2 linked regions of the Homo sapiens genome follow. The protein of the gene in region 1 interacts with the protein of each later gene in a pairwise test. Each region holds a gene or a part of one and is shown on either strand. Other genes may lie near its edges.

Region 1 (7,025 bases):
TCCTTAATCTCTTGAAGGAAACATTTAGGATCAGTCCTATTACAGAGGACAGTAACATCTCCAGCCTAAAACACAGGGGTGATGGAGGTTACCAATGTCAAAGAAGAGAAGGTGCAAGAAAGAAGAAAATGACAAAAACAGGCCATTGACATGCTACTAAACAAGAGGTGTTCTTACTCACAGCATGTACTCAGTTGCAACAGCAGCAGAGGGCCTTCCCTGCTTCCTCCCTAATTGCTTTATGCCCAGTGCCAAGTGTGGGCAGGGGACAGGCCTGACTTCAGCAACTGCAGGAGTCTGGGCAGGGTGGGGCAGTATAGTCGGGATATAACAGAAATAAAACCAAAACCCCACAGATACATACAAAACCCCAGCCACAACCCAAACCAAACAAATAAGCCCTTCCAGTCACAAAAACACATCGGCTCACGCTTACCATCATGTAAGGGTCGTCTACGATCGGGTAAATGTAATCTGTGGTTTGAACCAAGGAAAGCCCACCGTGCCTCAAAGGAATGACACAAGTATCCATTCCAATGCCTGTGGAGATGGAAGTCATTAGCATCCAAAAATAAAACGGGAAAGCCATTTCATTTTATATCACCAGTGCTCTGAACAGGAAGAGCTCATAAGATACTTATGGAAACTGCAGGCTGCCAATGAAGCCATGTGTTTCCTATCAAGAAGCGTAACTGAAATAAACGTGAAACATATCCAGCTTAGGATGGAAAATACCAATGAAAATGTTACTCATCAAGACTCAACTCCAATATGGCATAGTTTTAATCCTTAATGATGCCTTGAATAAAAATCTTTTTCACTGTATGACTTTTATTATTTTACTGTATTACTGTAGCGTGTGACTGGTACCGTATACAATTTCTTTGAAGATGAGAATCCTATAAATGGAACTTGGGTTATCTTAAGTATAGTTATTGTGCGTACATCTTTACAGACATTATCGTATTGTCCCATCAGAAACCATGTAAAATATTTTTACATTGAAAAATGCTATTATTACTTATACATTTTAGTCAAAAGTGAAAATGACACACACACAGATGAAATGAAAGGACAAATCCCAATCTACAATTCAATGGAAATTTCCAATCAAGCCTGGATATAAACACTCTGGCATCTATGTCAGAGGAGTCCCAAGACCACCAGTAGTAGTCAAGATACGCTACTCCTTGTCTTGGAGATAAGGCTGTACTCCTTTAAAAATTACTTGTAATGCAGGCATTTTACAAACTCAGACTAGCATTCCCACCAAGAAAGCTGAACACAGTGAGCAGCCCTACACCCCTCAGAAGGACACTCTTCTGTCCTCTTATGAGGACAGCTGTTCCTTGGTATCTGTGGGGGACTGGTTCCAGGACTCCCACAGACACCAACATCCACAGATGCTCAAATCCCTGATTTGAAATGTCCCAATATTTGCATATAACCTACACACATCTTCTCACATACCTTAAATCATCTCTAGATCACCTATGACACCCAATACGATGTGAATGCGATGTAAATATTTGTTATGCTGTACTGTTTAGGGAATAATGACAAGACAAAAAAAAGTCTGTGCATGTTGAGATGCAACCATCCACTTCTTTCCCTGCATATTTTCAGTCTGTGGTTGGTTGAATCCCCCACGAGGATTCTGCAGATACAGAGGGGGATGCTGTACTTCTACTTTGCAGCCCAATAGCCAAAAGCAGGGAAAAAGCCAGAATTAGGACAAAAGGAAGCAAATTATGTGCCTGAATCTACCCTATAAATTCAGAATTTCAAACAAGTTTAAATCATATCTGAATCGCACTAAAACGACCTTTAATATTCTGCGTAAGTGAAAGGGCCGTGAAGCACTGCCTCACTCGGTCTCATGACAGCAGCAGACCTCACAGAGGCGGGTCATGGAGGCACCAGATCTTTCCTGCTGCAAAAATGAAATCTCACTCAATAAAAAGCCATAGTCTGTGAAGACAGGCTGATTTTTATCACACTAGATAACAAAGCAGAAACTCTTGCTGGAAGACCTCGCTTAGGGAATGGAGAAGTGAAGTTCAGAATGGCAAGTTTCAACAATGTCAGGCACTGGATCAGTTTTCATCTGTCAGAGGAGAACGTGTGAGATAATTCACGTAAACAGCCCATGGGCACAACCTCTCAGAAATTTGTTTCATCACACTCTTTAGCACCTAAATAGAAATACCACTCTTTAACTCAATGGATTCTCCCTAAATGGATAATTCTGACAACTGGTTATTCTGAGTATATTATTATTCACTTTGGAAAACAGTAAGAGGCAGTTTTCTTTCAGGCTTCCATTTAAACTGGAGGACTACTGAAAGAGAAACTAAAATTGTTGCTGAATGTTAGCTTTAAATGTTCTTAATTTGAATAATCTTAAATTTGAATTACATACATTTGATTTGTAAAGCGCTTTATTTCTAAACTTAGCAAGTCCTTTGATCAGAGTAACGGGGGATTCTTGAGCACGCCCCTAGGGCTGAAAAGCAGCTCCGTTATCCACGGTTTCTCTTTCACACCTGTGCCACCACAGTCTACTAGAATAGGGTCTGGTGCTGTCCAATGTGGTTGACACTAGACACAGGGGGTGGCTGCGCATCTGACAAACAGGTGCTGTAAGTACAAAACAGACAACTGATTTTAAACACCTAGTACCAAAAACCAACATCTCATTAATAATGTCGTATATATACATACTGAAAAGACATTTTTATATATTGTGTTAAATAAAATAGATTATAATTAATTCCACCTGATTTTTGTTATCGGGTTTTTAAAAATATTACTTTGAATTTGAAAATTACGCATGTGGCTTGCATTGTATTTTTGGACAGCACTGGTCTACAGTGATTGGTTTAGAAATCACCAATCACATTTCAAGGAAGGAAGAGAGAAGGGGTGAGCCTGAGATGCCCACAGGCCTTGAAAAACTAGCGTTTGAAATGGAAAGACAGAGGGACGGTCCAGAGGGATGGTAACTGGGAACAGAGGAAAATGCCACAGGGTCGGGGAAGCCTTAAATACTAGACAGAACAGTTTAGGTTTAATGACCAGGAGGCAATGGGCAAACTTGCTGGAAGGTTTTCAGCAATACTGACATCCTCCATCAGAAAGACAACCTAAGTTATCACACCACTACCCACCCCCAACCCCTGCACCGCCCCCGCCAGCAGCAGCAATCATTACTTGATAGCTCCTAGGCACCAGGCAACAAATGTCTCTGGTTCTAAGGCACACTTCTTTTACCATTTCTTTAATTAGGATACATTTAGTAATCGTGTGTACATTTAAAAGCTGTTTTGGTTAACCCTTCAATTAACACCATTTTTGAAGCCAGAAAACATGACATTCAATTAGAAAAAAGTTAAAAACATAAACAGGCCGGGCGCGGGGGCTCATGCCTTTAATCCCAGCACTTTGGGAGGCCGAGGTGGGCAGATCACTTAGAGTCAGGAGTTCCAGACCAGCCTGACCAACATAGTGAAACCCTAACTCTATTAAAAATACAAAAAAATTAGCTGGGTGTGGTGGTGCACGTCTGTCATTCCAGCTACTTGGAGGGAGGCTGAGGCATGAGAATCAGGCCTGGGAGGGCCTTGAACCCGGGAGGCAGAGGTTGCAGTGAGCTGAGATTGCACCACTGTACTCAAGCCTGGGTGATGGAGTGAGACTCTATCTCAAGGAAAAAAAAAAAAAAAAGATGGCGGGGCGCGGTGTCTCACGCCTGTAATCCCAGCACTTTGGGAGGCCGAGGCAGGCGGATCACGAGGTCAGGAGATCGAGACCACTGTGAAACCCCGTCTCTACTAAAAATACAAAAAATTAGCCAGGCATGGTGGCGGGCGCCTGTAGTCCCAGCTACTCGGGAGGCTGAGGCAGGAGGATGGCGTGAACCTGGGAGGCGGAGCTTGCAATGAGCGGAGATCGCGCCACTGCACTCCAGCCTGGGCGACAGAGCGAGACTCCGTCTCAAAAAAAAAAAAAGTTAAAAAAATAAACATACAGCCGGGTGCGGTGGCTCACGCCTGTAATCCCAGCACTTTGGGAGGCTGAGGTGGGTGGATAACCTGAGCTCAGGAGCTTGAGACCAGCCTGGCCAACACCTTGAAACCCCGTCTCTACTAAAAACACAAAAAAATTTAGCTGGGTGTGGTGGCATGCGCCTGTAGTCCCAGCTACTTGGGAGGCAGAGGCAGGAGATCACTGCTTGAACCTGGGAAGCGGAGGTTGCAGTGAGCTGAGATTGTGCCACTGCACTCCAGCCTGGGCGACACAGTGAGACTTCATCTCAACAACAACAAAAAAAAGGTCAAAAACACCCATACATATATACCATATATACTTGTGTACAGAGGGTATACACATACATGTATTATATATGTAAGTACAGACATACATGGCACACCTACACACATTTTTGGTACAACAATGCAAAACAGTAATCTTTTTTTTTTTTTTGAGGCAGGGTCTCACTCTGTCTCCCAGGCCGCAGTACAGTGGTGTGACCTCAGCTCACTGTAGCCTCTGCCTCCCGGGCTCAAGGGATCCTCCCACCTCAGCCTCCCGAGTAGCTGAAACTACAGGTGTACACCAGCAAGCCCAGGTAACTTTTGTATTTTTAGTAGAGATGGGTTTCACCATTTTGCCCAGGCTGGTCTTGAACTCCTGACCTTGAGTGATCTGCCCATCTTGACCTCCCAAAGTGCTGGGATTACAGGTGTGAGCCACCGCACCCAACCCCAAACAGTAATTATTATTTTATAGATTAGGAAGCTGAGGCTCAGGAGGGCTGGGTGACATTCATGACATAATATGAGTGACTAGTAAGTAACTGTGCCAGAGGAAGTTATAAATAGTAATTCTTACTTTATGCCGTAATGTTTTAATTTCATTGGTTTTTGAGCATTAAGTATTAATAGCTTTTTTTCTTGACAGTTATCTAACAGCTTCCTCAGTATATTCTCATTTCTCGACAAATAAGCCAACATCAAACCCAGCTCGCTCACATGGTATTTCTCCACAGCTTGGCCATCAGCTGGACGGCAGGAACTGTTTTCAAACTGAGCTCCTCAAAGTCCTGCAGGTCACCAGCGACTGGGGTGTAACATTTCTTCCTTTCCAACAAAAGCAAGTCTGCTTTTATCTGCTTTCTCTATCTGGGAGTAAAGGAGACCCCAGGCTCATAACCAATGAACCTTACCAAATAATGGGCAAAAACAAATGAAATGAAAACCTTGGCTGGGTGTGGTGGCTTACACCTGTAATCCCAGCACTTTGGGAGGCTGAGGCAGGCAGATCACCTGAGGTCAGGAGTTCGAGAACAGCCTGGCCAACATGGTAAAACTCCCATCTCTACTAAAAATACAAAAATTAGCCGGGCATGTGGCAGGGGCCTATAATCCCAGCTACTCAAGAGGCTGAGGCAGAAGAATCGCATGAACCCAGGAGGCAGAGGTTGCAGTGAGCCAAGATCACGCCACTGCACTCCAGCCTGGGTGACAGAGTGAGAATCCATTTCAAAAAAAAAGGAAGAAAACTGATCAAGTCACACAGTAATTATCGAACATCCAAACCTCCGAAACTATGCGTCGAACACAAGAAAAGTGATCACAGTCTTGTACTGTGTACTTAATAAACTGCACAAGAAACATGAATAAACAATATCCCAGGAGCCCAGAATTTGTTTCTAAGCTCTGTGTTTGGGAAAAGTGAAATCACTCATGACATCAGGAATGTAGTAAAGAAAAAGACATTGCCCTGGTTCCAGATGACATCCTGGGGTCAAGAACAGATCCATCCAGTCCTGGGTCTGGAGCAGTCCCACCTCCTCACCGTAACACGCTTTTCGCCCGATGCACCCTGCAGAGAACCCCAATGCCCTCCTGACACAGTCACTGCCATCCAAGTACAGCACAAGAACCCTAAGGCTGGAACCGCCTTTCCTAGGGCAATGAAGGGAATGTGAGCATTTTAGGAGTCCTTTTAGGAAAAGGGAATAAAGTATTTCTGCTTAATCTTCAGCTAACAGAAAATTCAATTCAATTAAATTGAAAATAAAAATTAAAAAGTTTTTACTGTAATAACAATCTCAATTGCATACTCCATGATTTAAAAACTGTCAAGAGTACCCCTCTTGATGCGTTTCAAGTACTTTCTCTACATAAGTTACAAGAACATAACATAGCAATCATAACATTGATTGCTCTTCTAATCCTTCCCACAAAAATTAAAAAAAAATAAAGGGGGTACGATGTACACTATTTGGGTGATGGCTACACTAAAAGCCTAGTCTTCACCATTATGTAATATATTCATGTAACAAAACTGCATGTGTATTCCTCAAATCTATAAAAGCAAAAAAAGTAATAATAAAAAATAAATAGGCAACATGGGAGGCGAGAAATCCAGTTTTTGACTCACTGATTGGATCGCAGACCATCAAAGAAACACTGGGTTACCTACCAAGCCTTGGCATAACGGCTCCCAGAAACTGCTCATCTTCTTGGAAGTGGTTCTCCTGTAAAGATTCCAGCAATTTTTGCAGGACATCTTGGGGCACTTTGCAGCCTGTGCCCTTCAGTTCAGTGAATCTGGTTAGCCGGAAGCTTTTGTCCAATTCGTAACTTTCCGGGTTAAAGGACTCCCGCGTAGACATGGTTCTTGGGCCCCGCTCTCCTCACAGCTCAGCCCCTCCCCTCCCTCTGCGGGTTGGCTGGGTTCTTTATGGATCCACCTGGGTGTCACCAAAACACAAAGATGCCATGAAAAGAATTCCCACTGGGACCTGCCAGCGAATCAAGTGAATACATGACAGCGAAAAGTCAATGTGACAAGGGCTGAAATCATCAAGACCACTTATATTCACCACAGCAGTGCATATGACAAAATAGATCTTTTCATAACGGGACTGCGTCAGCACAGACATCTATGTAAAATCTGACATCTGGACTGTGGTTTTAACTGTGGCAAGAGGGCCAGCCTGCAGGTTCACATGACAC
Region 2 (7,025 bases), on another chromosome or scaffold:
ACTTGAGGAGGAAAATAATTTATGAATTAAAAATGCCACGCAAATTTTCTTTTTCAGAATTGGTATAAAAATTCTGAAAGAGAAGCTGCTACTCAACTAGGATAGTATCCACATTTTCTTGTGTGAGCTCTGACTCTAAGGCACAAGGCAAGTCTAAGTGTTCTTGTGACAAGCGAGAACTTTTCAGGGAGACATCAGACCAGCTGTCACAGTATGGCTGAAATCTCTGGGCCAATGCATTACCAAACCTTTGGCATCGGTTATATCTGTAAGATTTACCTTTGTGTGTATACATGTGTTCCAACAATTGGCTCTTTCGAGGGAATTTATGACCACAGATGGTACAGCTCATTTTTCTTTTCCTTGAAAAAGAAAAATTACAGTTTAATTCTACTGGCTCTGTGTCTTTGGAGATCAAAGATACTTGACTGATCTGCAAAGGCTCTGTGGTACCCCGGTTGGTGTGGTCTGGCTGCTGTTCATTCTCCTTAACAATGAAGGAGCTGAGCCTGCGGCATTCAAGGGCCTCGCTGTTTTCATTAAGGGGATGCACTTCACCAAGGTCATTACTTTCCAGAATGGAAGCAGGGACACCGAATGGCAGGGATCCAGACACATGTGTATGGAGATGTTGCCTTAGGTTACTACGGGAATCAAAACGTTCCCCACAGTAATGGCATAAGTGTATTTTGACACTGTTTTCAGTAAAAGTGGGGCCTGTCACCTCTGATGAGGGTGAGGGGTGGCTCTGGGAGATCACAGATTCTGGGTCACATCTCTCCTGCTTGATGGAAACTGGGGGCTTCTGGTGCTCCTCCAGGGCCTGGGTGGCAGGACAGGCCCTCTGCTGGTCTGCAGTGCCATCATCCAGACCAATAGCAAGAGACAACTGCAACTGGGGGTGGTCACCCTGGACAGCAGCTCTGTTTCCACTGTTACTGGAAGGAGCTTCTTTGACCTCCAGTCCTTGTTTGACAACTGTTTTTTGGGTTGTTGAGATCTGAATGCCATATAAATTTGAGGACTGCACAGTCTCTGGTGAGAACACTTGATTCATTTCAGTTGCAATGTGAGAAAGGTAGTCGGCGTGAAGAAATCGAATCCCTTCCTCCAAACGACTATGATCCACAATCTGTTTTGGCCCTTTCCCCGTGTACATAATGTGCAACAAATAGCTGAATATGTCAGGTTGGATGTCAGTTGGTTGTATTTTTATGCATTCACTGTTAAAAACAAAAACAGACCCACAAGAAATGAAACACAACCTAGCTGGCCTTTCAGTTAACAGTATAGTCTGAGACTAAAGCAATTTCTTCCTAAGAAGTTCGAACCTAGCAATCTGCCTTAATAAAACATGGCAACAAAGGCTTAAACTTTCATTTTATACCAACTTTATGGCCTAGCAAAAAGTCTTCATGTATTCAATCTACTGCCTAAAGTTAGGAAACACAGACATACATTCTGAATAGTTCAACATTAATCAAGTGACTCCTAAGTGATATGCACTATACTAGATGCCAGCGGTAGAAAACTGATGAATAAAATAGGTACCTGCTCTTAAGGAATTTAACAGTCTATCAAGTAAACGATCAAAAGAACTAAAAACAGGGACTCAAACAGATACCTGTATGCCAATGTTCACTGCAACATTACTTACAGTAGCCAAAAGGTAGAAAGAAGCTGAGTGTTCACCAAAAGATGAGTGGATAAACACAAGATGGCTTACACACACAATGGAATATTATTCAACCATAAAAAGAAGGAAGTTCTGATACATGCTACAACATGGAGAACCCAGAAAATATCATGCTAAGTAAAATAAGCCAGACACAAAAGGACAAGTATTATATAAAATATCTAGAATAGGCAAATTCATAGAGATAGAAAGTAAATTAGCGGTTTCTGGGGGTTGAGAGGGTGAGATGGGGAGTTATTGCTTAATGGGTACAAAGTTTCTGTTTGGGGTGATAAAAAAGTTTTGGAAATAGACAGTGGTAATGGTTGTACAACATTGCGAATGTGATTATCACCACTGCATTGTATAATTAAAAATGGTTAAAATGGCAAATTTTATATGTTTATAGCCACAATAAAGATATCTTAAAACTTCTGAAAGAACCTATTGAAATCAGCAGGGTGCGGTGGCTCACGCCTGTAATTCCAGCACTTTGGGAGGCCGAGGCAGGTGGATCATCTGAGGTCAGGAGTTCAAGAGGAGCCTAACCAACATGGTGAAACCCTGTCTCTACTAAAATTACAAAAAATTAGCCGGGTGTGGTGGCGCACACCTGTGGTCCTAGCTACTAGGGAGACTGAAGCAAGAGAATTGCTTGAACCTGGGAGGCGGAGGTTGCAGTGAGCTGAGATCATGCCACTGCACTTCAGCCTGGGCACCACTGCACTCCAGCCTGGGTGACAGAGCTAGACTCCGTCTCAAAAAAAATAAAAATAAAAAATAAAAAAAACAAAAGTGTTATATGAAACAAAAATTAACAGCTTAGTGACTAAAAGCATAGACATAGCTTCAGACAAATCTGCATCTAACTTATTAGCTGTATAATCCTGCATGGGCATGTTACTTAACTCAGTCTCAGTTTTCTTTTTCCTGAAATAGGGACAGCAGTAGAATTTACATTATAGGGCAAATACTTAGTGCTTGGGTATGGGATAAGCCTTCAATAAATTTTAGCTATTCTTTCCTTTTTCTTTTTTTTTTTTTGAGACAGAGTCTCGCTCTGTCACCCAGGCTGGAATGCAGTGGCGCGATCTCGGCTCACTGCAACCTTCACCTCATAGGTACACGCAATTCTCCTCCCTCAGCCTCCCGAGTAGCTGGGACTACAGGCGCCCACCACCATGCCTGGCTAATTTTTGTATTTTTAGTAGAGACGGGGTTTCACCATATTGGCCAGGCTGGTCTCGAACTCCTGACCTTGTGATCCGCCCACCTTGGCCTCCCAAAGTGCTGGGATTACAGGCGTGAGCCATGGCGCCCAGCCAATTTTAGCTATTCTTATTTTCATTCTTATTTTCCATTATGGATCCTACACACTGAGTTTAATTACTAATGTATAAAAAATTATTATAATTTGGCCAGGCATGGTGGCTCATGCCTGTAATCCCAGCACTTTGGGAGGCTGAGGCAGGCGGATCACCTGAGGTCAGGAGTTTGAGATCAGCCTGGCCAACATGGTGAAACCCTGCCTCTACTAAAAATACAAAAATTAACCGGGCGTGGTGGCAGGCGCCTGTAATCCCAGGTACTCGGGAGGCTGAGGCAGGAGAATCGCTTGTACCTGGGAGGCAGAGGTTGCAGTGAGCCGACACTGAACCATTGCACTCCAGCCTGGGTGACAGAGCAAGACTCTGTCGCCAAAAAAAAAAAAAAAAAAAAAAAAAAAAAAAAAAAATTATAATTTTACTTCTTAGTGTGACTCCGTAACAAAGAATTTCCAAAATGATACTATAATAAAGCTTATATAAATCACAATATTAAAAATTCTTATTTACAAAAACACATCCTTACCTTGTTTGGTGAATAAATATCATCTTGAAATAGTTAGAAAAAGCAGCAAGCACTGCTCTGTGGGCTTTGAAGTAAACATCTCCAATTGCAACTGTGCAATCACACAGAAAACCAAATTCTCGCTGCATGTTCAGCTGCTGGAGAAGAACAAGGCTATGGCTGGCAGTGTCCATTGTGGTTCTGAAAAAAAGGACAAGATAAATGTAGATAGGTGTGTATGTATATACGCATTATTTTTTATTAATACAAAATTGTCTACAGTTCACACAAACCTACAGAGTAACAAGGAGATCTAAATTTAAATGAAATTATTCAAGTTTTCAATCCTATTACTTTCACTGCAAACACGGCTAACACTAAATTCCTCCATTATGACAACTGATATAAACTCTGCTGAACCATAAAATATGACCCTTTTTCATCTGGTAAGAAGATAGCTTGGTATGAGTGACACATGAAGACAGACCTGTCCTTTTCCATCTATGTGAACACAATGTTTCTAATCTTGTTTCCTCATTAGAAAAATGAAAATGAGATACTGATTCCTGCCTCAGAGTTAAATAACTTATGTGAAAATCATGTTGTAATGGAAACTGCTATTCGATGTTAGCTATAAATGTTAATAACATAACACGGTATCCTGGCTGAGCTAGAGATGTCACTCCTCCTCAGGGATCCTCTGGTGCTCAGGGGATACTGGCTTCCCAACTCTCATCAAATGTTTGGGGGACTTATCATCACAGTAGCTCAGGAACTCTTAAAATAGATGTCAAGCCACATCCCCAATTTACTTGTGGCCCAAGAGCCTCCTGAGAAAGAACTTAAGCTGGCGCAGTGGCTCATGCCTGTAATCCCAGCACCTTGGGAGGATGAGGCAGGAGGGTTGCTTGAGCCCAGGTATTGGAGACCAACCTGAGCAATATAGTGAAACGTCATCTCCACAAAAAATAAAACAATTAGCTAGGTATGGTGGCATGCACCTGTACTCCCAACTACTTGAGGGGCTGAGGCAGGAGGATCACTTAAGACTGGGAGGTCAAGGCTGCAGTGAGCTGTGATCACACCACTGCACTCCAGCCTGGGCAACAGTGAGACTCTGTCTCAAAAACACACACACACACACAAAAGAAAGAACTGATCTCAACTGGATTCAGACGCATATTATAATGTAGGTTCCCAAAGGAAGTAAAAGGCAAGGTGGAACAACTGCGGGGAAGCCTATATGAGGAAGAACATGCAGAATTCTGGCCAAGAAGCCGAGTATAAGCAGCAAAAACATTCAGAAGTGCCCTGGTTTCAGGCAGGTGGCAGACTGTACATCATCTTCTCTACCCTACTGTGGAGAGAGCCCTGGTACTTTAGGCAGAAGGTAGCTGTAGTATAAAGGGCATCATTGGGTGGCCAGGAGAACATCCTTTGAAAGAGCAGACACTGAAAAAGAGAATGAGGTTTCCACACCAGCCAGCCAGACCAAGGTCTAAGGAGGTCAGTGATGTAATGCAGGGTTAGCCGTCTAAAGATTGGCAGTGGCTTGGGCAGCAGACAGCTAAGTGATCAGTAATATAATAAATATAGCTAACATTTTATAGTGCTTCCTATGTGTCAAAAATTAGCCAGGCACGGTGGTGCATGCTTTAGTCCCAGCTACTTGGGTGGATGTGACAGGAGGATAGCTTTAGCCAGGAAGATTGAGGCTACAGTAAGCCATGATCATGCCACTGCACTTCACCCTGGGTGACAGAGCAAGACCCTATCTCAAAAAAAAAAAAAAAAAAAAAAGGCAGACTCTATTAAAACTACATATTTAATGTACTGATGTGGAATAATCCCCAAGTTATATTATTATTATTATTATTATTATTTGAGACGGAGTTTTGCTCTTGTTGACCAGGCTGGAGTGCAACGGCTCCATCTCGGCTTACTGCAACCTCCGCCTCCTGGGTTTAAGCGATTCTCCTGCCTCAGCCTCCCAAGTAGCTGGCATTACAGGTGCCCGCCACCATGCCCAGCTAATTTTTGTATTTTTAGTAGAGACGGGAGTTCACCATGTTGGCCAGGCTGGTCTCAAACTCCTGACCTCAGGTGATCTGCCCACCTCAGCCTCCTAAAGGCATGAGCCACCGTGCCCGGCCTAACAAACTAAAAATCTGTATTGACAATTTCAGCATGTGAAAAACGTGTCTTAGAATCAATGAAATGGTTCATATTGAAGCATCTTAAACTAGCCTGATAAGTTGTCTCAAAAAAAAAAAACAAAACCAAACCCTCGGATCATAAACATTTTCACCAGTTCTTCCCATTATATTGAACTACTGAACCATAGGGAAATGAGACATAGCACACTAATAAGCCACCCATACAGGAATCTTATGGTTAATGGTCTGTTGGTAACAGTTAAATTCTTCACTTATTCAACAGATATTTTTGAAGAGCAATTTAATAAAGAAAAAATGTGTAAAAGCCTGCATTGTACAAGGCGTGGAGACAGAAAAAAATGACAAGATGCTACACTCAAGATTACAGGCTCACAGGAAAGATAAAACATCAAACCATAATTATAATATGAAATAAATGCATTCAGTAGCACAGAGCAGTTAGAGAACATGCTATCAGAGGGAGATAAACACAGGCAACTTGATGGGAAACAAGGCCAGGCAGAAAAAATAAAATGAATAAAATTACTGGGAAGAATATGAATAGTTAGATAACAGAAGGATTCAGCTTGGCATAGAAAAAAAAAGTAACAGAAATAATGAAATGTGGTCAGTTCAAAAAGCATACAGAATATAAGACTAAAAAGTAGTGTCGTGTTTGAAGTGAACTATGTAAGATGTTTGAGTAAGAACAGCATGATCAGTTAACTTACTCTGTGGGAGGGAGAACAGAGCGTGGTAGTTAAAGCTTGAACTAAAATCAGACAGCTTAAAATTTTAGCTCTGCCATTTACTAGCTGCGTGGTCTTGGCAAGACACTTAACTCTCTGGGCCTCCATTTCACTTATAAAATATGGACAATGACAGTATCTAACTTATAGGTTATTTGAATTTAATGATATAATGCACTTAGAAACAGTGGGCCCACAGTTAGTGCCTAATAAATACTAGGCATTATCATCATCACCATCATTAGGCGTGAGTAAAGACTGCTCTAACAGCAACATATAAAAAATATTAGCAAGGGAAAAGGCATGGAGAAAGACTGGCTAGGAGCCTACTATGGTATCAAAGTAATCGCAGTGGGAATGAAGGAAGGAATACAAGAGATACATCAGACACAAAACTGACATGACTTGTCACCACAGAGATCAAATCAAAGGTGAGTCTCAGAATTCCAGCTTGGGTAATTGGAAGAATTCATCCATTCCTTCAGATTACATTTTCAGAGTAACTGCCATGTGCTAGGTGTTGATATAAAGGCAGAGTCCCAGAACATTAGAGAAGAAGTACAGAAACCGTCTTGATAAGAGGTTCTGAGACCCCACCTCAAAAAAAAAAAAAAG

What was found. The genes of interacting proteins can lie anywhere in the genome.
Region 2: the proteins of SEPHS1 (region 1) and ZBTB25 interact in binary tests that used the Homo sapiens proteins (3 or more experiments, as listed by UniProt).

What each region holds. Positions count from the first base shown.
Region 1 is NC_000010.11:13,338,269-13,345,293, forward strand, and holds part of SEPHS1 (selenide, water dikinase 1), read right to left. Parts: intron 6,761-7,025; 5' UTR 6,683-6,760; coding exon 6,490-6,682; intron 2,641-6,489; exon of another isoform or gene 2,423-2,640; intron 541-2,422; coding exon 437-540; intron 1-436. UniProt on the Homo sapiens protein: Synthesizes selenophosphate from selenide and ATP.
Region 2 is NC_000014.9:64,486,835-64,493,859, forward strand, and holds part of ZBTB25 (zinc finger and BTB domain-containing protein 25), read right to left. Parts: intron 3,707-7,025; coding exon of another isoform or gene 3,700-3,706; coding exon 3,527-3,699; intron 1,224-3,526; coding exon 89-1,223; 3' UTR 1-88. UniProt on the Homo sapiens protein: May be involved in transcriptional regulation.